Homo sapiens: one gene and its partners. The protein of the gene in region 2 interacts with the protein of the main gene of each other region in a pairwise test. Each region holds a gene or a part of one and is shown on either strand. Other genes may lie near its edges. The genes, in order: CREB1, PIAS2, LCE1E, ZBTB8A, FKBP6, EDC3 and RUFY1.

Region 1 (3,500 bases), on a different chromosome or scaffold from region 2:
AAGCAGGGCTTCCAAGTCCTAGCCCTATCCCTCCATTTTGGGAGAAGGTATTAACCTTCTGTACCTCAGTTTTGTAAAATGGGATTCCAGCACACACCCAAAGTATTGTTGTAAGAGTCAAGTAAGAGAATCCTTTGAAAGCACTTTGTAACTGTAGTGCTCTGTTGAAATGGGTTTGTGTGTGTGTGTGCAATTTCACAGCTCAGATCAGCTTTTTTGTTCCTAAAATATTCTTAGCTGTCACAATGTTAGTAAATTATATCTAAACTCTGAGAAATGGCAGAGATTTTTCTGGGATATTAGAAAAAGAGTTGGAAACAAGCCAAGTGACTTTTTTTTTTTCTCCCGAGATGAAGTCTTGCTCTGTCACCCAGGCAGGAGTGCAATGGTGCAATCTCAGCTCACTGCAGCCTCCACCTCCTGGGTTCAAGCAATTCTCCTGCCTCAACCTCCCGAGTAGCTGGGATTACAGGTGCCCACCACCACGCCTGGCTAATTTTTGTATTAGTAGAGACATGATTTCACTATTTTGGCCAGGCTGGTCTCGAACTCTTGACCTTGTGATCCACCCTCCTCGGACTTCCAAAGTGCTGGGATTACAGGTATGAGCCATGGTGCCCAGCCCTCAAGTGACTTTTATTTGTGCTCCATCCATCTGTGATTTTGAGTATTTAAGTTTTACTAAAGAGAAGCATAAAAGCTGCATTCATAATTCAAATATATTTTAAAATATAAATTAAAATCTGTAAATAAAAATTAAAATATTTTCAGTTTTTAAAAATGTTTATAAGGAAACCTTTAACTTAAAATTAGAAGCAAGTCTGATCAAGAAGTCTCAAGCACAGGCTGAGTAGTAATATTTAAGACAACACTGCTTACTAAAGAAAAGAGTTCAAAGCAAACATAGGAGCAGAATCAAAAAATAAATCCTTTTGATTATAAAAAACAACAGAAGGACTTCTGTTTATGTCTATGTAGTTTGGCTGTGTGGAACAAAATGTTTACCCCCGTTGACTGGCAGACCAAATTTCCTTTTTGTTCTATTTATTTTTCTTTCAGATTTATGACCACTGCCACCAACAAGTTAGGAACAGGGCACACATAACTACAGTTCCTACCAGGCTTTGCTTGCCTGAGATCTTCAGGGAAACTACCCGACTTACCATGGACTCTTTCATAACATTACTTTGCTTAGATATAGTTACCCTACTCTTTAAAAAGGAAACTTCTCATTGATTCTGCCATAGTTCCTTTTCCCCTTTGTTACCAGATTACTGCTGCTTTTACTTTTTCAGCCTCCATTCACTGGAATCTGGCTTCTATGACTAGCATACCGCTCATATGTCTATAAAAAGGTACAAATTCCCTCCCACTTGGCAAATCTAGTATTTTCTTTCATTTAATTTTAACTCTATGGAGTATTTGACACTTTCGACTTCTCATTACTCTAAACTCTTCCTTGGCTTACTTCACCTGGTTTTCTGGCTACTTTTCAAATTTTTCCTTTGAACCTTCATCCATACCCATGTATTTCAGGCATTACTTTATATGCTGATACTTCTTAATTCTGTATATTCTGGCTTTGACCTTTCTGCCGAGTGCTATTTATTAAGCTCCAGTATATATTATTTTATTAATTCTACCTACAGTGAGGTAGAAGCTTATCCCCACTTTAGAGGAGGAGAAGGTAAATATCAGAAAATTCAAATATTTTGCCAAAGGTCACACACTTTATGAGATTAGTAGAACTGAAATTTGAACCCATATCTGGCACCAAAACCTGTAAACATGCTACTTCACTGATTCCAGTATGCAGCCATCTTCTGCTGTGCCTCTCAAACCAGAGCACATGGCAGTATGCTAGGGATGTGTAGCCTAAGGAGGTGAACGTGGAGTGCTTTCCTTGAATGTTCATTTTGCTAAAATATTTGAGAGAAATAAACCTTATTTTTAAGGTAAAATAAGAGTTTTAAAAGAAATTTATACCAGCAGTGGTTTTGCTGCACCCCCAGAGTCTCCATATTTGGTTTCCTCTTCTAGTGTGGCTATTTCAGTGGAAAAGTTAAGAGAAGCACACTCCTAAGCATGCTCACTAGGATGAATTTCCCTTATGCACATCAAACACAGCCTATCTTAAAGTTTGATAGGAAAAGATTGTAATCCAAAAAATTCATCACTATCCAAATTGCCATTTATTTCAAGATGAAGGTAAGTGGTAAACATTCTAAAAGAAAGTGTAGACAGCTCTTCTGTTAATTTGTGTTGCTACAGTAACAACCACGAATCTCAGTGTCTTAAAATTTCTTCCTCACTTCTGTTACATTTTGGCAGCTGCAGGTCAGTTGCTGTGGCTCTCCTTCATGTGCCCATCTGGGTCTAGGATCCTGGGCTAGATAGAGCAGCACGTCTTTGAGAAAAGGGCAATGCTTTTGAAAGCATTTGCTTGATTTTGGTGAACGTTACATCTACTCGTGATCTGTTAGCCACAGCACAGGCAAGGACAAGCCCAAAGTCAGTGGAGTGGGAATGAACTCTTCCTACAGGAAGTGGAGAGTGAAAAATTGTGAAAGTAATACAATCTATCACCTTTGCCTTTATGTAACTTTACATTGTAGGGGGATTTTAAAAGCAGATTCCCTAAAGGCAGAAGTAACAAAGGAAAAGGTTAAATGGATTTGACCATATAAAACTATAAACCCCCTATTTAGGAAAGTAAAAGATAAAGTAGCAAACATTTTAACAAATAATGTCAGAAGACTAATGAGTTGAGGGATATAAATAGGCAGATTCTTAGAAAATGGATAGGGTAAAAAATTTGAAAAATTCTAAAAAAATTAAAATGTATTTGATATGAATTAAAATATATCCATTCAACTATATACAACTAGCCATTAAGAGTAAATAAAGGTGTATTTTTATTAAGATGGGAAGATGTTCTCGGACAAAAGCAGGTTACCAAAGAGTATTTACATTACTATCAGGTTTTTTAAATTTATTATTACACAAGTAAAACATGTTCATTATAAGTAAATTAAGAAACATTACCTAAAAATTGAATTACTTCTAATTTCACCATCTAAAATGTTAACATTCTAAAGTCAGTTTTTTTACTCAAACCAGTACAAAGGTAAATATACATTTTTAATATATTTTTAAGTAATTTTAAACTTACAAAGGAGTTTTAAAAATACAGAGTTCCGGATACCCTTCATCCAGCTTTCTCTAATCTTAGTATATTACATAACCAGGGTACATTTATCAAAAATAAAAGTACATTGGTATAATACCATTAACTGAATTATACATTTTATTTCCCCAGTTTTTTTACTTACATAATCCAGTTTGGGTACCATATCGCATTTAATTATAGTCTCCTTCAGTCTGTGAAAGTTTGTTTCCTTGTCTTTGATGGCCTTGTAACTTTTGAAGAGTAGTGATCTGTTTTCTTTTAGAATATCCCTCAGTTTGCATTTGTCCAGTGTTTTCTATGGATAGATTGA
Region 2 (3,395 bases):
CTGGGATTTACAGGCGTGAGCCACCGCGCCTGGCCAAAATAAAATGTTTTTATCTTTCTTCACTTAGAACTATGAAGGCCTTTTCTTGTTCTGGTAACCCCCCACAGTGTAATTGGTGCTGAAAATAGTTTCGTGCCTGAGGTCTGTTGTCACTCACTCACTTTCTGACAATTAGGTGAGCCACTTGAGGATTTTCTGGCCTGAAGTTATAAAAACTTGGCATCTGTCCTAAGGTAATTGTAAAGGCAAAATGAAAGCATTGAGGTGAATTTAGGTTATATGGCATTTATCTGGTAATGTGTTTCAGAAAAGCTAGAATGAAAATGTGATGTAAGGGATAGCAAGTGTAGGTTGATTCATAATTCTTGGTATAAAACCAAGTTTTCCTTAGTCTTGAGGAATTTGAAGAAAGGTAAAATGTTGGATTTTAAGCAAAGTAGGATTGACCAGAGACTGTTCTGACTTTGACATTCAGACCTTTCAGATGTTCTTCCTTCAGACCAGTCCAAGACACTCAGCATTTCCAGCCAAGTTGTCTTTTTTTTCTGCCAATAAAGTATTCATTAGTTGACGTTTGTTTGTATTTTAAGTAAAGTCAATTTTTTTTAAAGCATTAATTTAATTCACGGGTATGCCTTTCATTTCTCTGGCCTTCAGTTGGTTTAAAAAAAAAAAAAAAAAAAAAAGCACTTAGCCGGACCATTCTTTCTTTAGTAAACATTTTTATTTTCTTAATTTTTCCTGAAAGATTTTCTTCATTTTCATGGAATGTCATAATGACACTACCATTATTTTCTAGCTCTTTGCATAATAGAAAAATGTAGAGCAGTGCACCATTTAAACACGTCTGACATTGGATTTAGTGGTCCTAGGTTCATGTGATTTGGGAGCCTTAAGTTGTTATTTAGATTGATTCAGCCTGATTCACCATCTTTTTTACTACAGTTCTACATGAATGTGGTGAAACAGGTAGAAGAAAATTAAGCATTTCTCTGCTTTTGGAGTCTAATGTTCCTGCCTAGTGACTGGTTTGTAACACCCCCCTCACCCCTACTTTGTTAGGAACCTGCAATTCCTAAAAGAAATAAATAAAGCTGTACCCAATGTCCATTCTTTAATGCTTGCCTGGTTGAATAATGTTTGTTTTTTCTGTTTATGTCAGTAGTACATGCTTATTGTGGAAAATTTAGACAATACAGAAAAGTATAACAATTAATTGCCTATGATTCTGTCACCAGAAAAAATCACTTGATATTTTTGCATCTTCCTTGCCATTGTCTTTGCTACTTCTGCATATTTTTACTTAGTTTCATCATTCTCAGTGTAATTTATATCTTGGGGTTTTTCCCCGCAACCTACAGGCATTATTCCATGTCATTAAAACTGTGTCAACTATTATTAATTTTATGGTACTCCATTGTTATGGATGTGCCATGTTTCATATAACCTTTACTTATTTTGAACAGTTTAGATTATATCTCATAATGCCACAATGAATGTCTTTGTGTATAAATTATTTTCTTAGGATAAAATACTGGAGGTGGAATTTCTAGTCAAGGGTATATGAACACTTTTGTAGTTCTTGATTCATACCACTTTTCCACATGGGTATGTTAATTTATACTGCAGCTAGATGGTATGGGAAGGGTGGTCTAGCCATATTTTCCAAGAACATGCAACGTTTTATCTTTATGCAGGCATCTGCACTAAGACCCTCTGCCTTTCTGACTCTATGGAACGGGGTTAACTGATATGGAGATCATTGGCAGAGATTTTCCCAAGCTTTCTTAGTTTTAAATATATCTGACATGGGCCGGGTATGGAGGCTCACGCCTGTAATCCCAGCACTTTGGGAGGCCAAGGCGGGCAGATAATCTGAAGTCAGGAGTTGGAGACCAGCCTGGCTAACATGGAACATGGTGAAACCCCATCTCTAGCAAAAACATAAATTAGGTGGGTGTGATGGCAGGCGCCTGTAGTCCCAGCTACTTGGGAGACCGAGGCAGGAGAATCGCTTGAACCCAGGAGGCGGAGGATTTGCAGTGATCCGAGATTGTGCCACTGCACTCCAGCCTGGGTAACAAAGCAAGACTCTCTAAAAAAAAAAAAAAAAAAAAAAAAAAATATATATATATATATATATATATATATAAAATCTGACATGTTTCAGAAACACCTACGTATGGCTATCCAAGCTTTTCCCATGATTTTACTGGCACTGTAAAGTTGCACAAATATTCTTTGTCAGACTACGTTTTCCATCTTTAGTTCAAAAGTTTTGTCACTTTTTAAAAAAAGCCTCTTGTACCTAAGGCCTGCCCTTAAGAGGTCAGCTCTCTTTTTCCTCTTCCTGTAGGCCCCATTATGGCCTTTCTGAGCTCCCCAAAGCCAGTAGAATCTACTGAGCCAAAGGCATTCCATCCCCAAACTGAAAAGTGGTAAGGCTAAAAGCTATAAAAACAGGCAAACATTGCCTGTTTTCACTTTATATTCCCTTATGTTTCCAATAAGGGTAGCTGCAGGGAAAGAAAAAAACAGATTGCTACCTTCAGATGTTTGAGGTACAACATTTTCTTGATTGGCGTAGCACAATCATTTCCCAAACTGCTTCCTATTTCTGAATGGCTTTTTTAAAAAGCTTTATTTTGTGTTCTCAAAGCTTAATTATTTTAAGTGACGAAGAGTGTTACCGTGTTGTAGAATAGCATATGCCTCTTATTTTGGCCTTCATCAAACTGTTTAATAAATGTTTAGAGTGTTTTGTAAGTACACGTGGAATAGAGTGTTACAGAAGTTTTGGTTCCAGACATCAGGCAGCTTATAATCAAGGTTCCAAAAATCAAGAATTCTTAAGCTGGGCATGGTGGCTCATGCCTGTAATCCCAGCACTTTGGGAAGCCAAGGCAGGCAAATCACTTGAGGCCAGGAGTTTGAGACCAGCCTGGCCAACTTGGTAAAACCCCATCTCTACTAAAAATACAAAAAATTAGGGCATGATGGCTCATGTCTGTAATCCCAGCTACTTGGGAGGCTGAGGGATGAGAATTGCTTGAACCTGAGAGGCGGAGGTTGCAGTGACTCAGGATCATGACCCTGTACTCCAGCCTGGGTGACAGAGTGAGACCAAAAAAAAAAAAAAAAAAAAAAAAAAAAAGTAACAGGCATTGTGCAAAGAATTTTCCAAGAATGTCTCATTCTTGCAATGGCTTCTCAGAGGAAAGTGGTGTTATTCCCCATTTTACAAATGAAACAGGTTTAGGTAAGTTTCCCAAGGTCACAGTGAATGAGTAGTGGACTTGGGAGTCTGACCTAGACTTACCCCAAAAGCTCTCTGCGTAAACTGAAGTGACGTTAATTAGCTGTGCTATCTAGGAGACTGATATGGGAATCTAGAC
Region 3 (3,797 bases), on a different chromosome or scaffold from region 2:
TCATTTCCACATAGCTTCAACAACAATGTTTTGTAAGCTAAAATGCTCACAGAAAGCTTGTGAACCAATAATGAGTTCTCATCCCCAAAAGATGAGCTATGCTCTTTTTATTAATGAGATTAAATTGCTTTTAAAATCTAATTTCAGAAGTTATTGGTTTTCTTCATTAATTATTTGTGAATGAAATATGAATTCTGCCAAAACTTTTATAGGAACATTTATTTACTCAGTTTTTATGAACTCTATGTTTCTTACCAATATGAGTCATCTCCCTATCACATATATTATAATTTTCCCAAGTTAATTTTTTACCCTTCCTTGCTTTTAGTGGTACTATCTGATACTTAGAATTTCATTTTAATGTGGTTAACTGTATCCACATTTTCATTTATGTATTCTAGATTTTGTGTTATTTTGAAAATCTTCTCAATAAATTAACTACATTTTTGGTGTGTTATTGCAATTATAGTTATGCAGCTATAAATATTTGACAAAACTCATTTAATTTTACATTTAATTTTATTGAATTTTATTGCATGCAAATTATACAGCACTAAATGTGATTTAATTTTTTTACAATGCAGATTCATCTCATCTATGTGCATGTACATATGTGTGTGTGAATGCATGCACATACAGTATGGAGGAGGAGTCCAGGGAGATTGTTAGTGGAAGGAGTGGGGAACGAGGAACACAAGAATGAAGAGGTGATAGTGGGAAGGAGGATGAAGTCGGCCTCCTGGCCATGCCTGAGGGATGCGGTTACATAGGTGAAAGGAACCAGAATTTGAAAGAAAAATATTTCTCAATGCTATTTCAGTCCCTTGGTTTAAAAGGAAAACACCGAAAGAAGAAAAAACACAAAACACACAGAAATGCAAGCTTTTTCCTCCTGACCCCTTTCCCCATCCTCTGTCCACCAAGGCCTCAGCAGCCACCAGCAGACACAGGGGAGCAGAACAAGGATGACACAAACAGGAAAATCAAGCAGGCTGGTAGCAAGTTGGGGGGCAGATTCTGGATTTTATTTCTTCAGTTCAGGCAGCACAGAATACAGCAGCGTGAGCTGGGGAGGAAGTAGGTGTGTGCTTTGGAGTTCCCAGGGCAGCCATGGATCTGCAGAAGAAAGTCTCTAAATGCCATTAAGGAGAAAGATTTTGGGTTTCCTGACACCAGAGCAGAGGGATTCTCCAGGCAAGACTTCAAGCTTTTGCTGGAACCTCTCAGCTATTCAGGCAGAATCAGAAGGAAGAGGAAGTCAAGGTCCACTTCAGCAGCAGCCTCCAGAGTGCTGGCCGCTGCCCCCTCCACAGCAGCTGGAGCCCCCTGAGGGCTGGCTGCAGCAGTCAGAGCTCTGGGGTCTGTGACGGTGGGACCTGTGGTGCCTGTGGTGGCTCAGGCAGCAGCCACCTCCCCCAGAGCTGCAGCAGCCCCCAGAGCTGGAGCCACAGCTGCCCCCAGAGCTGGAGCCACAGCAGCCTCCGGAGCTGACACTGCAGCAGGAAGAGACTGGAGGGCACTTAGGGGGACACTTTGGAGGGCATTTGGGGGTGGGACACTTGGGAGGGCACTTGGGAGTGCACTTGGGAGGGGGCTGGCACTGCTGCTGGCTCTGCTGGCAGGACATCTCGGCAGTAGGTACTTAGGAGCTGAGGGAGAGTCAGACAGAAAATCAGACCTAGGCAGAGGCCACCTCTGCCCCTCTGACACTCTTAGCATGACTTGTAATTATGGAAACATCATGTCCAGTAGTTTCACTTCCAATACTTTCCCCAAATTCTCTCATCATCTCTTTGCAAGCTCAGGATACCCTTGTGTGTTATCTGCTACACAAAATTGTAAACTAAGACCAAACAATATTACAAAATGCATCTGACAGTCCAAAGTGTTATAAGTGAAGGAGGAAATTATTCCAAATATGTCTTCACACCCTGAAATTATATGATTTATAGGTCATTTAGGGAAAATTATTTCTTAAAGAGAAAAAGTAATCACTACCTTTTGTAACTTGCAAGGTAGTTTTACTCTGCAATATCCATACTACAAAAGATCTTGGATATTACTGGCTCAGTAAACTTACTTTGTTGAAGCAGAGACAGACAAACCCATAAATTCCTGCAGCCCTGGAATTTGAACCCTGGCCTCCTGATCTTAGGCTGGAGCTCAGATTTCCTCAGCTTACCACCTGCTCAGGCTGATGGGTGGGCATGGTGAGTCTCAGGTTTGGTGTGTCCTAATCAACCTGGGAAATTTGTGAACAAATCCCAGACCCATAAAAGTGTCGGTTCCATAAGCCCAAAGGAGCCTCTGGTCCCCTGTCCATGGCTCCAGCTCTTCCTTGCAGACAGGGACAAGGTTGTATTTTCAGAGGTGGGCTTCCTTCCTGTGGTCTGTCAGAGTGCCCCAGGTCTCTGTGCTTTAAGGTTTCCCATCCTGAGAGGACTGCTCCACCCTACAGCAGTTTTTTTTGGAGCCCAAAGGCACAGCCAACCAGTTATTCTTTCTGTCCCAGTTGTTACCAGTCTCCTCCCCCATGGAAGCCCTGCCCACCACTCCTCCTAACCTGATCTGAGCATCCCTCTGTGGAATCCCCTGCTTCTGTTCCCAGAGGACACATACCAAAGTCACAGGCAGCACAGGGTCCTTCGGCACCTCAGGAAGTGAGTGAATGGGGTGCTCTGGCCCTGAGCCCTTTTATCCCAGCCTGGGTTTCTGCCTCCTGTGGTGAGACAGGGCCTGGGCATGAGAGGACTTGCCCCCTGATACCCACGTGGGTCCTGTGATAGGTGGTGACTAGCAGCTCCTCACCTGCCTCCCTCCCCAGGCTGAGGGCACCTGCTGCTAGATAGGAGTAGGGCTGCTTAGAAACAAAGGGTGGGGACAGTTTATACAGGACCTTCTGCCCCATTCTTCCTGGTAAATCCCAGCCTTGACCGCTTTTTAGTTCTCGTTTTTGCACACTGGCCTGCAATTCCTTTGTTCTTTCTTGTTGCCCATGGAACTCATTGGCTTCTGGCAGCTGAGTTTGGACTGTAATTCAGAGATTCTTTCACATTTTCCCTCTTAAGTCTAAATAATCCTCCAGGCTACTGGGGGTCAGCTAACTTCTGTCTGCAGCCCAAATCTGCCTGCTGTCTGATTTGGATAGCCTCCAAGGTTTTTAATGCGTTTAAATTGTTGAGAAAAGAAAGCAAAAGAGGAAAATATTTTACAACATATAAAAATTATATTAAATTCAAATTTCAGGCTTCATAAAGTTTTATTTCTCTGACTTAGATAATGAGCCACATTTATTATTTTATTGATTGTGTCTGTGGTACTTTTCACACTAAAATGGAGAGCTGAGTAACTGGGATAGAGATGCTATGGTTCCCAAAGCCTAAAACATTTAATCTCTTAGAGTTTTAAAAAAAAAAAAAATGCTGACCCCTGATGCATTCCATTATATTTAAGAGCTTGCAGTCAGACAGGCTAGAAAACTGCCCTGGTTCTGCCACCTAGTAGCTGTGTATACTTGTGAAAATTACTTAACTTGACTCCTTTTCAGTTTGTTGTTCTTGTTTCTTCCTCAGTTTAAAAGTACAGATAGTGATACAGATATCTCACAGGGTATTGAGCCAGCCAGTAAAATAATATAAGGAAAAAGTCTGGTAGAAGGTCCGTGACATGATAGACCCTTAAAAAATGTGATGCCTACATATGCGTCAATAAACGAATAGGTATTTTGAAGTCATAGCTGCTTTCCAAGATGGGGGGTGGGGTGGGGTATAAATCTGGGATTTGGGGTTGTTTGGTTT
Region 4 (3,500 bases), on a different chromosome or scaffold from region 2:
GAATTCACAAGGAGTTGGTTAGCCCAAAAAGTAAGAGACGAAAGAAATTTTATTAAGACTAGATTGTCAATGTAATCCTAAGTATGGAACTTTAACTTCGGTATTTGATATATTTAGAAAGTTGGGTAAATTCAGACTGCTATGCTTTTTTTTTTTTTTTTGAGATAGAGTTTCGCTCTGTTGCCCAGGCTGGAGTGCAATGGCGCAATCTCCACTCACTGCAACCTCTGCCTCCTGGGTTCTCCTGAAGCGATTCTTCTGCCTCAGGCTCCTGAGTAGCTGGGATTACAGACATGCGCCAGCACTCCCAGCTAATTTTTGTATTTTTCGTAGAGACATGGTTTCACCATGTTGGTCAGGTTGGTCTTGAACTCCTGACCTCATGATCTGCCCGCCTCAGCCTCCCAAAGTGCTGGGATTACAGGCGTGAGCCACTGTGCCCGGCCTGTATTTGTATCTTAATAAGCTAAATACTCCTCTGAGTAAGTACACAGGAAAAAAAAAAACTATTTAAAGTGAAAATATGTGTCTCAGGGATTGAACTATTTAGAAAAGAGCTTTAAACATTTAAGAGTAATCTAACCACCCACAGATACAGGTTTGGAAAATCATGGGTTTTGACCCTTAGTATTCTTATTATTTTGATTGTCATTATATTTATTCAATATTATTTTGAATTAAAAAATTTAAATCCACGTTTTATGAAATGAATTTCTTCTTTTTTTGTTTTTTTGAGACAGAGTCTCACTCTATCGCCCAGGATGGAGTGCAGTGGTGTAATCTCAGCTCCCTGCAACCTCCGCCTCCCGGGTTCAAGTGATTCTCCTGCCTCAGCCTCCTGAATAGCTGGGATTACAGGCACACATCACAATGCTCGGCTAATTTTTTTGTACTTTTAGTGGAGACGGGGTTTTGCCATGTTGGCCAGGCTGGTCTCGAACTCCTGACCTCAGGTGATCTGCCCGCCTCAGCCTCCCAAACTGCTGGAATCACAGGCGTGAGCCACCACGCCTATCCTTACTAAATAAATTTCATTACAAAAATAGAACTTTTGAAAAAAATCACTTGCTTCAACTGCTTAGAGCACCTGAAACTAAGGGTGTTTTGACAGTAGACTGATTAATATAGCAGTTTGGAACCTGGATGAGGGGACTTATGCTCTTTTTGGGTACCTGGAAAGCTTTTGGATGTGACATCAGATCCTTGACCGTACTGATAGCCAACAGGAGTAGAGTCCATTTCAGCATCAATCTGTGCTTGTTCTTCAGACTGGGAAACATGGCTGGAAGAATCAGATGTTCGTACTTCTCGTTTGCTTGACTTATAATGAGTAACTTCAGAAGGCTGTGACAATCTCAAATGTTTGGTCTTTTTAATGGACTCTTTCCTTGGTTCATGCTTGGCCAAGGGTTGTTGAGTATTCTTCTGGGAGGCTGGATGATAATTATACTTATTCCAAGATTTTCCACTTATTATACCTGTTCCTTGCTCTGGGCTTAGGTGAGAACGTGGAGAACTGCTTCCTTCTTGCCAGCCACCACTATAAAAAGAGGAACGTTCTACACCATTAGAATTGGCATCTTTATCTGAGAGACTGAAATAGCGATCTTTTTCTTTCTCACTAATGTCTAAGGAAGATTTAATAAAAGTCTTACATACACTTATGACATCAGTCATCTGAAGGAAGCTAGCAGCCGACATCACTTCTATGACATTCTGACCAGTAAGAGACAGTTTGCCAGAATATACGAAGTCCAAGATAACTGTAAAAGTGTCAGGGGAGAAAGCCTGAAATGTAGCTGTGGTTGGCTGACTCGTCTCCTTTGAATTCTGAGAAAGAAGCATTTTAAAGTAGCCGCTACTAGCGAATAATACATTTCGATGTGCTTTGAAGACCTTCCCTTCAACTAGAATACTGCAGTCACAAAATACATCTTGCCTGCGCTGCTCGTTCAGTTGCTGCAGGAGGTGAGACTGATGAGAGGAGATCTCCATTCTGAAGAGGAAAAGACACATGTGGTTACCAAAACCTACATTACAATTATTTTATTTTGTTTTGAGACAGGATCTTGCTCTGTGGCCCAGGCTGCAGTGCAGTGGTGTGATCAAAGCTCACTGTGGCTGGGCACAGTGGCTCACTCCTGTAATCCCAGCACTTTGGGAGGCCAATGCGGGGGAGATCACCTGAGGTCAGGAGTTCGAGGCCAGCCTGGACAACATGGCGAAACCCTGTCTCTACCAAAAATACAAAAATTAGCTGGGCGTGGTGGCGGGTGCCTGTAATCCCAGCTACTCAGGAGGCTGAGGCAGACAAATCGCTTGAACCTGGGAGGTGGAGGTTGCAGTGAGCCAAGATCACACCACTGCACTCCAGCCTGGGCCACAGAGCAAGACTCTATCTCAAAAAACAAACACCCCAAAAACAAACAAACAAAAAAAGCTCACTGCAACCTTGAACTCCTGGTTTCAAGTGATCCTCCTACCTCAGCCTCCCAAGTAGCTGGGACTACAGGTGTGCACCACCATGCCTGTTTTTTTTTGTTTTTTTGTTTTTAATAGAGATAAGGTCTCACCACGTACCCGAGCTGGTCTCCAACTCCTGGGCTCAAGCAATCCTCCTGCCTCAGCCTCCCAAAATGAACAATCCTTTTCTAAGGTGAGTCAACTAAAATAATAATCAGAAGCCTCTTTTATTCCATTAAGAACACTTTCTTGTTGGAGAATATAATCGCCAAGACACAGAAGATAATAGGTTTCAACATATCACTTAATACTAGACTGTTATCAGCCAGGCGTGGTGGCTCACGCCTATAATCCCAGCACTTTGGGAGGCCAAGGCGGGCAGATCACAAGGTCAAGAGATGGAGACCATCCTGGCCAACATGGTGAAACCCCGTCTCTACTAAAAATACAAAAATTAGCTGGGCATGGTGGTGCGTGCCTGTAGTCCCAGCTGCTCGGGAGCTGAGGCAGGAGAATCGCTTGATCCTGGGAGGTAGAGGTTGCAGTGAGCCGAGGTTGCGCCATGCACTCCAGCCTGGCGACAGAGTGAGACCCTGTCTGAAAAAACAAACAAACAAACAAACAAAAAACAAAAAAACAACTAGACCGTTATTAGATTTTAGAAAATTACTTGTTTTATTAGCAAAATTTATTGAGCATCTTCTTTCATTTTTTAAATATAGAGATGAGGTCTATGTTGCCCAGGCTGGTCTTGAACTCCTAGGCTCAAGCGATCCTCTGGCCTCAGCCTCCCAAAATGCTAGGATTACAGGCATGAGCCACTGCATCCAGCCAAGCATCTTCAATAAATCAGGCCTTCTGCTATATGCTGAACCAACACATTTGATTTTTGCCTTCATGTTGTTTTCAGTCTAAAAGTGTTATCAGACATTAAACAAAGACTCCAGCCCAGGGTGGTAGCTCACGCCTATAATCCCAGCACTTTGGGAGTCAGAGGCAGGAGGACAGCTTGAGCCCAGGAGTGTGAGACCAGCCTG
Region 5 (3,500 bases), on a different chromosome or scaffold from region 2:
AAGAACAAATAGCCCTTCAATTTTCTAAAATTTATTTTTTGTAGAGATGGGATCTTGCTATGGTGCCCAGACTGATCTTTAACTCCTGGCTTCAAGCAATCCTCCCACCTTGGACTCCTGAAGTGCTGGGATTATAGGTGTGAGTCACTGTGCCTGGCCCCCCAGTTTTAAATGAAAAATTCATCAGAAGAGGTGGCAAAAAGTCAAGGAAAGCTTCCATACATGACACAAACAGGAGAAAAGATGGAAACTAGGTGGGGAGGGGGGAGGGACAGCAGCCAGAAGCTCAGTGCAGGAGGTCTGATAATAGGAGTTCCAGACAAAGAGGGCAGAGGGAACAAGAGTAAATTATCAAAGAAATAACTCAAGAAAGTTTCCCAGAGTGGAGGAAAAGTTTCCTGAATGAAAAGATACACACACGCAGAGGCACATCACCGTAAAATTTAGGAATGCCGGGGAAAAACGATCTTCGTCTCTACAGAAGAAAAAACAGGTCACGTAGAAAGGAATAAAGAACCTAAGTAGTAGTAAGATTTTTTTGTTGTTGTTGTTAGCTTTGAGCTCAGAACTAGCAAGACCTTTTTTTTTGAGATGGAGTTTCACTCTTATTCCCCTGGCTGCAGTGCAATTATGCCATCTTGGCTCACTGCAACCTCCACCTCCCGGGTTCAAGCAATTATCCTGCCTCAGCCTCCCAAGTAGCTGGGACTATGGGCACCCACCAACACGCCCAGCTAATTTTTGTATTTTTAGTAGAGACGGGGTTTCACCATGTTCGCCAGGCTGGTCTTGAACTCCTGACCTCAGGTGATCCACCCGCCTCGGCCTCCCAAAGTGCTGGGATTACAGGCATGAGCCACCGTGCCCAGCCAAAAGACTTTTTAATAACAACTCTAGACAAATATGTATTTAAAAACCAAGAATATTTTAGACATACATCAACATACTCTGTTAAAACAAAGGAGTAAGTTGAGAAAAAAACAGGAAATCCACAAACTAGCATTATAGGGCAGCCCCAGGACAAGAGCTGTGTGGCGGGCCCCAGGGAGATTCTCCCCTGGCCACGCATTGCGGGGTCACCTGGGTGGGAAGGAGGGAGGGGAGAAGAGTCTGGTGCTTGTGTTATGTTAAGAGCTTTCTGGAAGACCCTCCAGAGGTTTCCCTTTATGTCTCCTTGGCTAGACCCTTGTTACAGGGACACCCTAAGCTCATGGGAAGCTGGGAAGATGTAGTTTTTTAATTAGTACACTGATGCTTTGAGTGAAATGGGAGGTTCTGTTAGGAGAAGGGGGAATAGATATTGGGTGACAGGGTCGGCAACATTTGGCCTATATGAGTATGTTCCAGAGACAGCACACGCATGTGTGGTGTTTTGTTTTTTTTTTTTTTGGAGACAGAATCTTGCCCTGTTGCCCAGGCTGGAGTGCAGTGGTGCGATCTTGGCTCATTGCAACCTCCGCCTCCTGGGTTCAAGTGATTCTCCTGCTTCAGCCTCCCAAGTAGCTGGGATTACAGGCACCCACCACCATGCCAGCAAATTTTTGTATTTTTAGTAGAGACGGGGTTTCGCCACGTTGCCCAGGCTGGTCTCAAACTCCTGACCTCAAGCTATCCACTCGCCTCAGCCTCCCAAAGTGCTGGGATTACAGGCATGAGCCACTGCGTCCAGCCATGTTTGTTGAATGAATAAAATTAAAAAGGAAACAGAAAACAGCTCAGCATAACCTACACAAGAAGCAAAATCACAACAGGAGGCTTGATGAGGCTGCAATTGCCTCAGGCTAGAATCGCCAAATGAGCCTCCACTGTCAGAGACATGAAATGATGATGGCAAAGGGGTGGAGAAATCGGTTGGTGGAGGACCTAATAAGCACTGGGATGAGAATTTTTAAAAGTTAATAAACTGAATTGTTTTAGAGCAGTGAGATGGAAATTCTAAACACTTCTAGTTCAAGTACATATACAGAGGCAAATGTTTTTCACAACCTGAACACACCCATGTACCCAAGAACCACGTCAAAACACAGAACATTCCCAGGTGCCTCCCAATCCCGTGAGTCCTCTCTCCAGCCCTTATCCCCTCGAGAGTCCCCTCTTCAGCCCTTATCCCCCCGTTAGTCCCCTCTCCAGTACTTATCCCTTTGGCATGAGGATTTTTTTTTTTTTTGAGATGGGAGTTTTTTTGCCTTTCTTGCCCAGGCTGGAATGCAACGGCACAATCTCGGCTCACTGCAACCTCAACCTCCACCTCCTGGGTTCAAGTGATTCTCTTGCCTCAGCCTCCCAAGTAGCTGGGATTACAGGCACCCACCACCACGCCCGGCTAATTTTGTATTTTTAGTAGAGACGGGGTTTCACCATGTTGGCCAGGCTGGTCTCAAACTCCTGACCTCAGGTGATCCACCTGCCTTGGCCTGGCATGAGGATTTTTTTAAATGAGATTTTTCTTAATGGCTGCTCATAGAAAGTAGGGAGAAAGACAAAAATCTGTGTTTTTTGCCGGGCGCGGTAGCTCACACCTGTAATCCCAGCACTTTGGGAGGCCGAGGTGGGCAGATCACGAGGTCAGGACATTGAGACCATCCTGGCTAACACGGTGAAACTCTGTCTCTACTAAAAATACAAAAAAATTAGCCAGGTGAAGTGGCGGGTGCCTGTAGTCCCAGCTACTTGGAAGGCTGAGGCAGGAGAATGGCGTGAACCCAGGAGGCGGAGCTTGCAGTGAGCTGAGATTGCGCCACTGCACTCCAGCCTGGGCGACAGAGCGACACTCTTGTCTCAAAAACAAAACAAAACAAAAATCACAACAAAACAAAATCTGTGTTTTTTAAACAAGGAAGTTTTCAGGATCTAAACTTACACTTAACTTTCAAAGCATTCTCACCCTTTTATATCTCACTTTGGCATCATAGAAACGATTCTGGCGGAAAAGGTAGTTGCCAAACTCCCGTTCCGTAGCTGCCACTTTCAGGACCTTCTGAAGTGGAAATTGGTCTTGCTGCTCCTGAGGACCAGAGACAGGAATATTCAGCAAGGAAACCAAAAGCAGTAATGCCACAATGGAAGTGTTAGTACACGTGAGCCCAGGAGTTCGAGACCAGCCTGGGCAACATAGTGAGAACATGTCTCCATTTAAAAAAATAGTAATTGAAAGAAAGGAAGTGTTACTACAGCTGTGAGCTCTTCTTTTTCAGATCATGCACTTCTGTTTACAGCCTTCTGTGTTGGAGTCACCTCTGAATCTGACAGAAGCCACACCAGTGTTATAACCTGTCCCATTTTACACCCTAGAGCCAGAAGGAAGTCTACGTCTTCAGTCTTCCCCTGATGTTCTCTGAGGAAGCAGTGTCCCATGGAATCAAAAACTGACGGAACTTGCCAAGCACAGAAGTCAGTGCTCAAAACCACTATTTGGCCACCAAGCACTGAACAGGTCTTGGTTTGCTCAGGGCCCTGGCAGTCTTTATGGTCATGATGCTCTGCCCTGGCCATCTTCAGAG
Region 6 (3,500 bases), on a different chromosome or scaffold from region 2:
CTCCCAAAGTGCTGGGATTACAGGCGTGAGCCACCGTGCCCGGCCAATAGCCTCTTTTTAAAGGCTAGCATTGTGTCAGTTGGATAGTTGGTGGCTGACCCCTGTCCTTAAGCACACAGCCCCCTTTCCTAGCCTCTGATAACTCAATAAAATGCAGTCCTGCAAAGGGGTAGCTGTTTGCTAATGATCTCAGTTTCATCATTCTTACCACTATTATAATTTTGAGACTTGGCTTTTTTGTGTATTTCAGGGCAGGTGACATTACGGAGTTAAAAATTCTGGAGATACCAGGACCTGGAGACAACCAACATTTTGGAGACCTTCATCAAACAGAATTAGGCCCCTCTGGTGCTGGCTGCCAAGTGGGCATCAATCAGAATGGCACAGGCAAGTTTGTCAAGAAGCCAGCCTCTTCCAGCAGTGCCCCTCAGAATATCCCTAAGAGGACAGATGTGAAGAGCCAGGATGTTGCCGTTTCCCCGCAGCAGCAACAGTGCTCAAAGAGCTATGTCGACAGGCACATGGAATCCTTGAGTCAGTCCAAAAGTTTCCGTCGTCGGCACAACTCCTGTAAGTAGGGTCAAGTTGATATTTCTTCTCAATCTGGTGTTTCAGGGCTATAAGCCATAAGCACTGCTGCTCTTTAAACAAATCCTTTGTTATTCCAATAAAATGGATGCTGGCTGAGCGTCACAGAAATACAACATGGTTCTCTTCCTCCAGGCCTCATTCCTCAAGATGTTAAGGGAAAGGAAATAAGCTGTTAGGGATGCCTGTGAGCTTCCTGCCCTCTCTTACCACTTCCTTCAGGAAAAGTCTGCCCAGAGTTTACTAACAGTGATGTTTTAAATCCAGGAACTACTGGGCGTGGTGGCACGCATCTATAGTCCCAGCTACTTGAGAGGTTGAGGCAGGAGGATTGTTTGAGCCCAGGAGTTCAAGGCTAGTCTGGGCAAAATAGTGAGATTCTGTTTCTGAAAAAGAAAAAAAAAAAAACTTAAATCCTGTTACTGATGTTGGTAGTAGTGTTTGAGTTGAACCTGCACTTGGGCTGTTCCAGAGGATTCTTGAGTAACTTTTCTTCCTGTGATTTGAGTCTCATCCTCAGAAGAGAGGAGGGGACTGATCCAAACATCTCTGTGATCTTTGATTTTCTAGCAGACAATTTTTAATTTGCTGTATTTGTTCCTACTGACACACCAAGAAGAATGTGCATTGGTCTCTGTTGCTGCCCAGTTTTGTTTGATACTAACACATTATTAAATGCCATTTGCTGATTATAAAACCATAGTTGTGACCAGGCACGGTGGCTCACACCTGTAATCCTAGCACTTTGGGAGGCTGAGGCGGGCAGATCACCTGAGGTCAGGCGTTTGAGGCCAGCCTGGCCAACATGTTGAAACCTCGTCTCTGCTAAAAATACAAAAATTATCCGGACGTGGAGGTGCATGCCTGTAATCCCAGCTACTTTGGAGGCTGAGGCAGGAGAATCCCTTGAACCCAGGAGGCAGAGGTTGCAGTGAGCTGATATTGTGCCACTCCAGCCTGGGCGATAGAGCGAGACTCTGTCTCAAAAATAAAATAAATAATATAAAATAAAACCATAGTTGTGTTGGTGGTATGATGGTGAGCATAGCTGCCTTCCAAAACCATAGTTAATTCACTAGAACTGTTCTTCTCCAACATATTTACTAGAATAATGTTACAATAGCGAATCATAACATTCACTGGAATCTGTTATGCTCCTTAAATTAATATGAATGTTGTTTTAAAAAATTACTTCCAAATGCCAAACTATTCTTATTTTACTTAGATGGTTTTGTACTCACAGATGGTAGCAGAATGTATTAGAAATTTTAAGTGAGAGGCTGGGTGCAAGTGGCTCACACCTGTAATCTCACTACTTCAGGAGGCTGGGGCAGGTGGATCGCTTGAGCCCAGGAGTTCGAGACCAGCCTGAGCAACATGGCAAAACCCCATCCCTACAAAAAAAAAAAAAAAAAAAAAAAAAAAATTAGCTGGGCGTGGCAGCGTGCACCTGTGGTCCCAGCTACTCAGGAGGCTGAGGTGGAAGGATGGCTTGAGCCAGGGAGGCGGAGGTTGTGATTAGCCAAGATCATGCCACTGCACTTCAGCCTGGGTGACAGTGTGAGACTGTCTCAAAATGAACAACCAAAAGAAATTTTAAATGAGTATTCATTAACTCATTTAAAATTATAAGCTAGAGTCATGCTATGGCAATACCTTCTAAAAGGCACAATTTAGAGTGAGCTAGGTCTCTCTAGACCCCACTCAGAAAGTTTATTACATAAAATTCCGGATACTTCTTGCTACCATTGTTGCTCCTCACACTGTGGTCCTGGTGGCAATGTAGTAAGGTTTTAGTGTGCTGGGTGAATTCTATTAGTAGCTTGTGGTGTGACACCTGTGTCAGGGGCCAACATTTTAAGTTTTGGAGATGCCTGATTCAAGTGAATAAACAACTAAATTAAAACTAATTTTTTTTTTTTTTTGAGATGGAGCCTTGCTCTGTTGCCCGGGCTGGAGTGCAGTGGTGTGATCTTGGCTCACTGCAACCTCCACCTCCCATGTTCAGGTGATTCTCCTGCCTCAGCCTCCCTAGAAGCTGGTACTACAGGCACTTGCTGCCATGCCCGGCTAATTTTTTTTTTTTTTTTTTTGAGACAGAGTTTCGCTCTTATTGCCCAGGCTGGAGTGCAATGGCGTGATCTTGGCTCACCGCAACTTCCGCCTCCTGGGTTCAAAAGATTCTCCTGCCTCAGCCTCCCGAGTAGCTGGGATTACAGGCATGTGCCACCACGTCTGGCTAATTTTGTATTTTTAGTAGAAACGGGGCTCCATGTTGGTCAGGCTGGTCTCAAACTCTCGGCCTCCCAAAGTGCTGAGATTACAGGCATAAGCCACTGCGCCCGGCTAATTTTTGTATTTTTAGTAGAGATGGGATAATGCCATGTTGCCCAAGCTGATTTCGAACTCATGACCTCAGTTGATCTGCCTGCCTCGGCCTCCCCAAGTGCTGGGATTACAGACGTGAGCCACTGCACCTGGCCTAAAAAAATGTTTTAATGTATGTAATATACAGTTTCAAGGTAGTTTCCTTTGGTGCATATGAAACAACTATCTGAAATGACGATGTTTGCAAATATGAGACTGAAATTCAGTTGTGACTTCTGTATCCTTAGAAAAACTGTAGAATGCTTGGATAGAAAATGATTCTTTCCATTTAGACTTTAACCTTTTTCTTTCTTTCTTTCTTTCTTTCTTTCTTTCTTTCATTCATTTTTGAGACAGGGTCTTGCTTTGTCACTCAGGTTGGAATGCAGTGATACGATCACAGCTCACTACAGCCTTGAACTCCCAGGCTCAAATGATCCTCCCACCTCAGCCTCCTGAGTAGCTGGGACTACAGGTGTGTGCCACCATACCTGGCTAGTCTTTTTACTTTTAGTAGAGACAAGGTCTCACTATGTTGCCCTGTC
Region 7 (3,500 bases), on a different chromosome or scaffold from region 2:
TGCTTTATTCTCTTCATGGCACTTGCCTCTATCTGAGCTGCCAGCAGGCTTAGTGGTTTATGATTTGTCTTTGTCTTATGCTCCTAAAACAGGAGCTCCCTAACAGCCTCCCCACACCCTGGAGCCGCCTGGCCCCCACACAAAGGGTGCGGGGAGAGGAGCCTGCCCGGAGCATGTTAGGGGTTTCTGGAGGCTGCCAGAGGCTCTCCTCTCCCGGGATGGCCCACCTCACCTTTTTCAGTCCTTCCACTTGTTGCAGCTCCATCCTGAGTAGAGAGGAAGTGTCTTTCTCGTGCTGTAATTCGCGCTGAAGAGCCTGTCTTTGCTCTTTTTCTGATTTCAATTCTTTCTCCAGGCTTGAGCTGTTTTCCCAAAATGAACTTGAGTTAGTCTCAGTGGGAGACTTTCACGGAAGATTCACAACCCAATTCACCGCCCAGGAAACAGGGAAGTCTCTGAATTGCCTCTTGAGCATCTAAAGCCTTCGGCAACGCTTCCCTCTCCTCCAGGGTCACCTGCCCTTCCACAAGAAAGAGCAGGAACCAGGGAGAGAAAAGCCTGCAGGCACACACTTGACACTTACGCAGGGGAGAAGGAAGAGAGCTCTAGAACACTTAGACCACATAAGCAGAACCCTCCCGACATGGAGACCTGAGGAAAGGAAGCTCAAAATTCGTTCTTTTCTTTTTTTGAGACAGGGTCTAGCTCTGTCACCCCAGCTGGAGTGCAGTGGCGCAACCTCAGCTCACTGCAGCCTCGACCTCCTGGGCTCAAGTGATCCTCCCGCCACAGCTTCCCAAGGTGCAGAGATTACAGGCATGAGCCACCTCACTGGCCAATTCATTCTGCTTTTTGTTTTTTTTTGAGACGGAGTCTCGCTCTGTCGCCCAGGCTGGAGTGCAGTGGCACAATCTTGGCTCACTGCAACCTCTGCCTCCTGGGTTCAAGCTAGTCTCCTGCCTCAGCCTCCCTAGTAGCTGGGATTACAGGCACACGCCACCACGCCCAGCTAATTTTTTGTATTTTTAGTAGAGATGACGTTTCACCATGTTGGCCAGGCTGGTCTTGAACTCCTGACCTCGTGATCTCCCTGCCTCGGCCTCCCAAAAGTGCTGGGATTATGGGCGTGAGCCACCGCGCCCGGCCTCATTCTGCTTTCTACAACCTACAGCCAGACTGACAATGAAGGATCCTGGAGGGAGAAGGCCAGGAGGGAGCCTCAGCCTGAAGCTGACTCTGCCCTTTACCAGCTGAGTGGCCCTGGGGGCACTGCTGGACCGCCTGGAGTCTGCTCTCTCTTTGTGGGAATAAAGATGTCTCTTCTCTCTTCTCTCAACATCAGGCTTTTAACTTGGCATATATATTATCTCAAAAAATCTATAGGCCAGGCACGGTGGTTCACACTTGTAATCCTAGCATTCTGGGAGGCCGAGACGGGTGGATCACTTGAGGCCAGAAGATTGAGACCAGCCTGGCCAACATGGCAAAACCCTGTCTCTAATAAAAATACAAAAATTAGGCTGGGCGCAGTGGCTCACGCCTGTAATCCCAGCACTTTGGGAGGCCGAGATGGGAGGATCACGAGGTGAGGAGATCGAGACCATCCTGGGTTAACACAGTGAAACCCCGTCTCTACTAAAAATACAAAAAATTAGCCAGGTGTGGTGGCTGATGCCTGTAGTCCCAGCTGCTCGGGAGGCTGAGGCAGGAGAATGGCGTGAACCCGGGAGGCAGAGGTTGCAGTGAGCCGAGATCGCGCCACCGCACTCCAGCCTGGGCAAGAGAGTGAGACTCGGTCTCAAAAAAAAAACAAAACAAAACACAAACACAAAAATTAGCCGGGTGTGTTGATGTACACCTGTAGTCCCAGCTACTCAGGAGGCTGAGGCACAAGAATCGCTTGAGCCCAGGAGGTGGGGGTTGCAGTGAGCTGAGACTGCACCACTGCACTCCAGCCTGGATGACAGAGTGAGACTTAAAAAATAAAAAATCTGTAGATGAACTGTGCACAAAATTATATGAAGCTTGCATCAGCAAAGGCTAGGTGAAAGGTGACTTTCTGTTCAACACTGACAAAGCTGTTTCTTTTTAGAAAGGGTGGTTAAGGGTGATACAGGCTGTGACCTGGTACCATGGTTTGAGAGTGGCCAGATCTTCTGGAGGCGAGCTGGACCACGTGAGGAGCCCTGTGGGGAGGGAGCTCCCTAGGGATAACATACGAACCCTGCAGGGGTGAGTGGTGAAGCAGGATACCACCTGCCCCCCCGCCCCCCCTCCTCCCGTTCGTGCTGAAGCAGGATACCACCTGTCCCCAGTTCTTCCCAGTCCCTCCTGAGCCACACCCCAGCCCAGGCTCCCTGCAGGGCCCCTACCATTGCTCGTGCAGCTGGGAGAGCTGCAGCTGCAGGGCGCCGATCCTCCCGCCCAGCTCCTGCTGCAGCTTGTGGCTCCGCTCCTCAGCCCCCTGCCTCGCCCGCTCCGAGTGCTGCAACCTGGATGCGACACCAGCAAGAGTGCAAATGAAGCAAATCTTTGTAAGGAAAGGATGACTTTTGCTGGCTGAAATTCATTTTTAAAATTACCATACAGTAAAATTAACTCTTGTGAGTTTTAACACGTGGAGATTCAGCTCCACCACAATCAGAATACAGGACGGTCCCACCACTCCCAAAACTCCCCACCTCAGCCCCTGGCAACCACTCATCTGTCCTGCAACAATATGGCTTTGGCTTTTTGAGAATGTAATCTCAATGTAATTATACATTATATAACCTTGAGACTGACTTTTTCTCAGAATAATGTCTTGGAGATCAATCCAAGTTTCCATGTGTATCAATGGTTCATGCCTTTTGTTTCCTCTCTGAACGTCCTGAAAGGGCAGTGGTTCATTCCTTTCTACGGCTGAGTCATACTTCACCGCACAGACGTACCACTTTGTTTATCCATCACCCAATGCAGAACATTGGGATTGCTTCTAGCTTTTGGCAGTTATGAACGGAGCTGCTATAAACATATGTACTAGTTTTGGTGTAGACATAAGTTTCATTTCTATTTGGATCATATGGTAAGAGGACGTTTAGCTTCTTGAGAAACTGTTTTCCTGAGTGGTTGCACCATTTTGCATTCCTACCAATAAAGTATGAGAGATCCATTAGCTCCGTGTCCTCATCAGCACTTGGTATTGTCATTAAAGAAACGGTAGCTGGCCAGGTGTGGTGGCTCATGCCTATAATCCCAGCACTTTGGGAGGCCTAGGTGGGCAGATCACCTGAGGTCGGGAGTTCGAGACCAGCCTGATCAATATGGAGAAACCCCATCTCTACAAAAATACAAAATTAGCCGGGCATGGTGGCAGGCACCTGTAATCCCAGCTACTTGGGAGGCTGAGGCAGGAGAATTGCTTGAACCTGGGAGGTAGAGATTGCGGTGAGCTGAGATCGCACCATTGCACTCTAGCCTGGGCAATGAGAGCGAAACTCTGGCTCAAAAAAAAAAAAAAA

What was found.
Region 1: the proteins of PIAS2 (region 2) and CREB1 interact in binary tests that used the Homo sapiens proteins (3 or more experiments, as listed by UniProt).
Region 3: the proteins of PIAS2 (region 2) and LCE1E interact in binary tests that used the Homo sapiens proteins (3 or more experiments, as listed by UniProt).
Region 4: the proteins of PIAS2 (region 2) and ZBTB8A interact in binary tests that used the Homo sapiens proteins (3 or more experiments, as listed by UniProt).
Region 5: the proteins of PIAS2 (region 2) and FKBP6 interact in binary tests that used the Homo sapiens proteins (3 or more experiments, as listed by UniProt).
Region 6: the proteins of PIAS2 (region 2) and EDC3 interact in binary tests that used the Homo sapiens proteins (3 or more experiments, as listed by UniProt).
Region 7: the proteins of PIAS2 (region 2) and RUFY1 interact in binary tests that used the Homo sapiens proteins (3 or more experiments, as listed by UniProt).

What each region holds. Positions count from the first base shown.
Region 1 is NC_000002.12:207,578,462-207,581,961, forward strand, and holds part of CREB1 (cyclic AMP-responsive element-binding protein 1), read left to right. Parts: intron 1-1,059; coding exon of another isoform or gene 1,060-1,105; exon of another isoform or gene 1,106-3,360; coding exon of another isoform or gene 3,361-3,485; exon of another isoform or gene 3,486-3,500.
Region 2 is NC_000018.10:46,806,113-46,809,507, reverse strand, and holds part of PIAS2 (E3 SUMO-protein ligase PIAS2), read left to right. Parts: 3' UTR 1-3,395. UniProt on the Homo sapiens protein: Functions as an E3-type small ubiquitin-like modifier (SUMO) ligase, stabilizing the interaction between UBE2I and the substrate, and as a SUMO-tethering factor.
Region 3 is NC_000001.11:152,785,130-152,788,926, reverse strand, and holds LCE1E (late cornified envelope protein 1E), read right to left. Parts: upstream 2,671-3,797; 5' UTR 2,620-2,670; intron 1,650-2,619; 5' UTR 1,628-1,649; coding exon 1,271-1,627; 3' UTR 501-1,270; downstream 1-500. UniProt on the Homo sapiens protein: Precursors of the cornified envelope of the stratum corneum.
Region 4 is NC_000001.11:32,591,427-32,594,926, reverse strand, and holds part of ZBTB8A (zinc finger and BTB domain-containing protein 8A), read right to left. Parts: intron 1,997-3,500; 5' UTR 1,996-1,996; coding exon 1,173-1,995; intron 1-1,172. UniProt on the Homo sapiens protein: May be involved in transcriptional regulation.
Region 5 is NC_000007.14:73,331,161-73,334,660, reverse strand, and holds part of FKBP6 (inactive peptidyl-prolyl cis-trans isomerase FKBP6), read right to left. Parts: intron 3,005-3,500; coding exon 2,885-3,004; intron 1-2,884. UniProt on the Homo sapiens protein: Has an essential role in spermatogenesis. It is required to repress transposable elements and prevent their mobilization, which is essential for the germline integrity.
Region 6 is NC_000015.10:74,668,525-74,672,024, reverse strand, and holds part of EDC3 (enhancer of mRNA-decapping protein 3), read left to right. Parts: intron 1-250; coding exon 251-570; intron 571-3,500. UniProt on the Homo sapiens protein: Binds single-stranded RNA. Involved in the process of mRNA degradation and in the positive regulation of mRNA decapping. May play a role in spermiogenesis and oogenesis.
Region 7 is NC_000005.10:179,595,554-179,599,053, reverse strand, and holds part of RUFY1 (RUN and FYVE domain-containing protein 1), read right to left. Parts: intron 3,151-3,500; exon of another isoform or gene 2,493-3,150; coding exon 2,373-2,492; intron 2,233-2,372; exon of another isoform or gene 2,093-2,232; intron 802-2,092; exon of another isoform or gene 699-801; intron 363-698; coding exon 233-362; intron 1-232. UniProt on the Homo sapiens protein: Activating adapter involved in cargo sorting from early/recycling endosomes. Regulates retrieval of proteins from endosomes to the trans-Golgi network through interaction with the dynein-dynactin complex.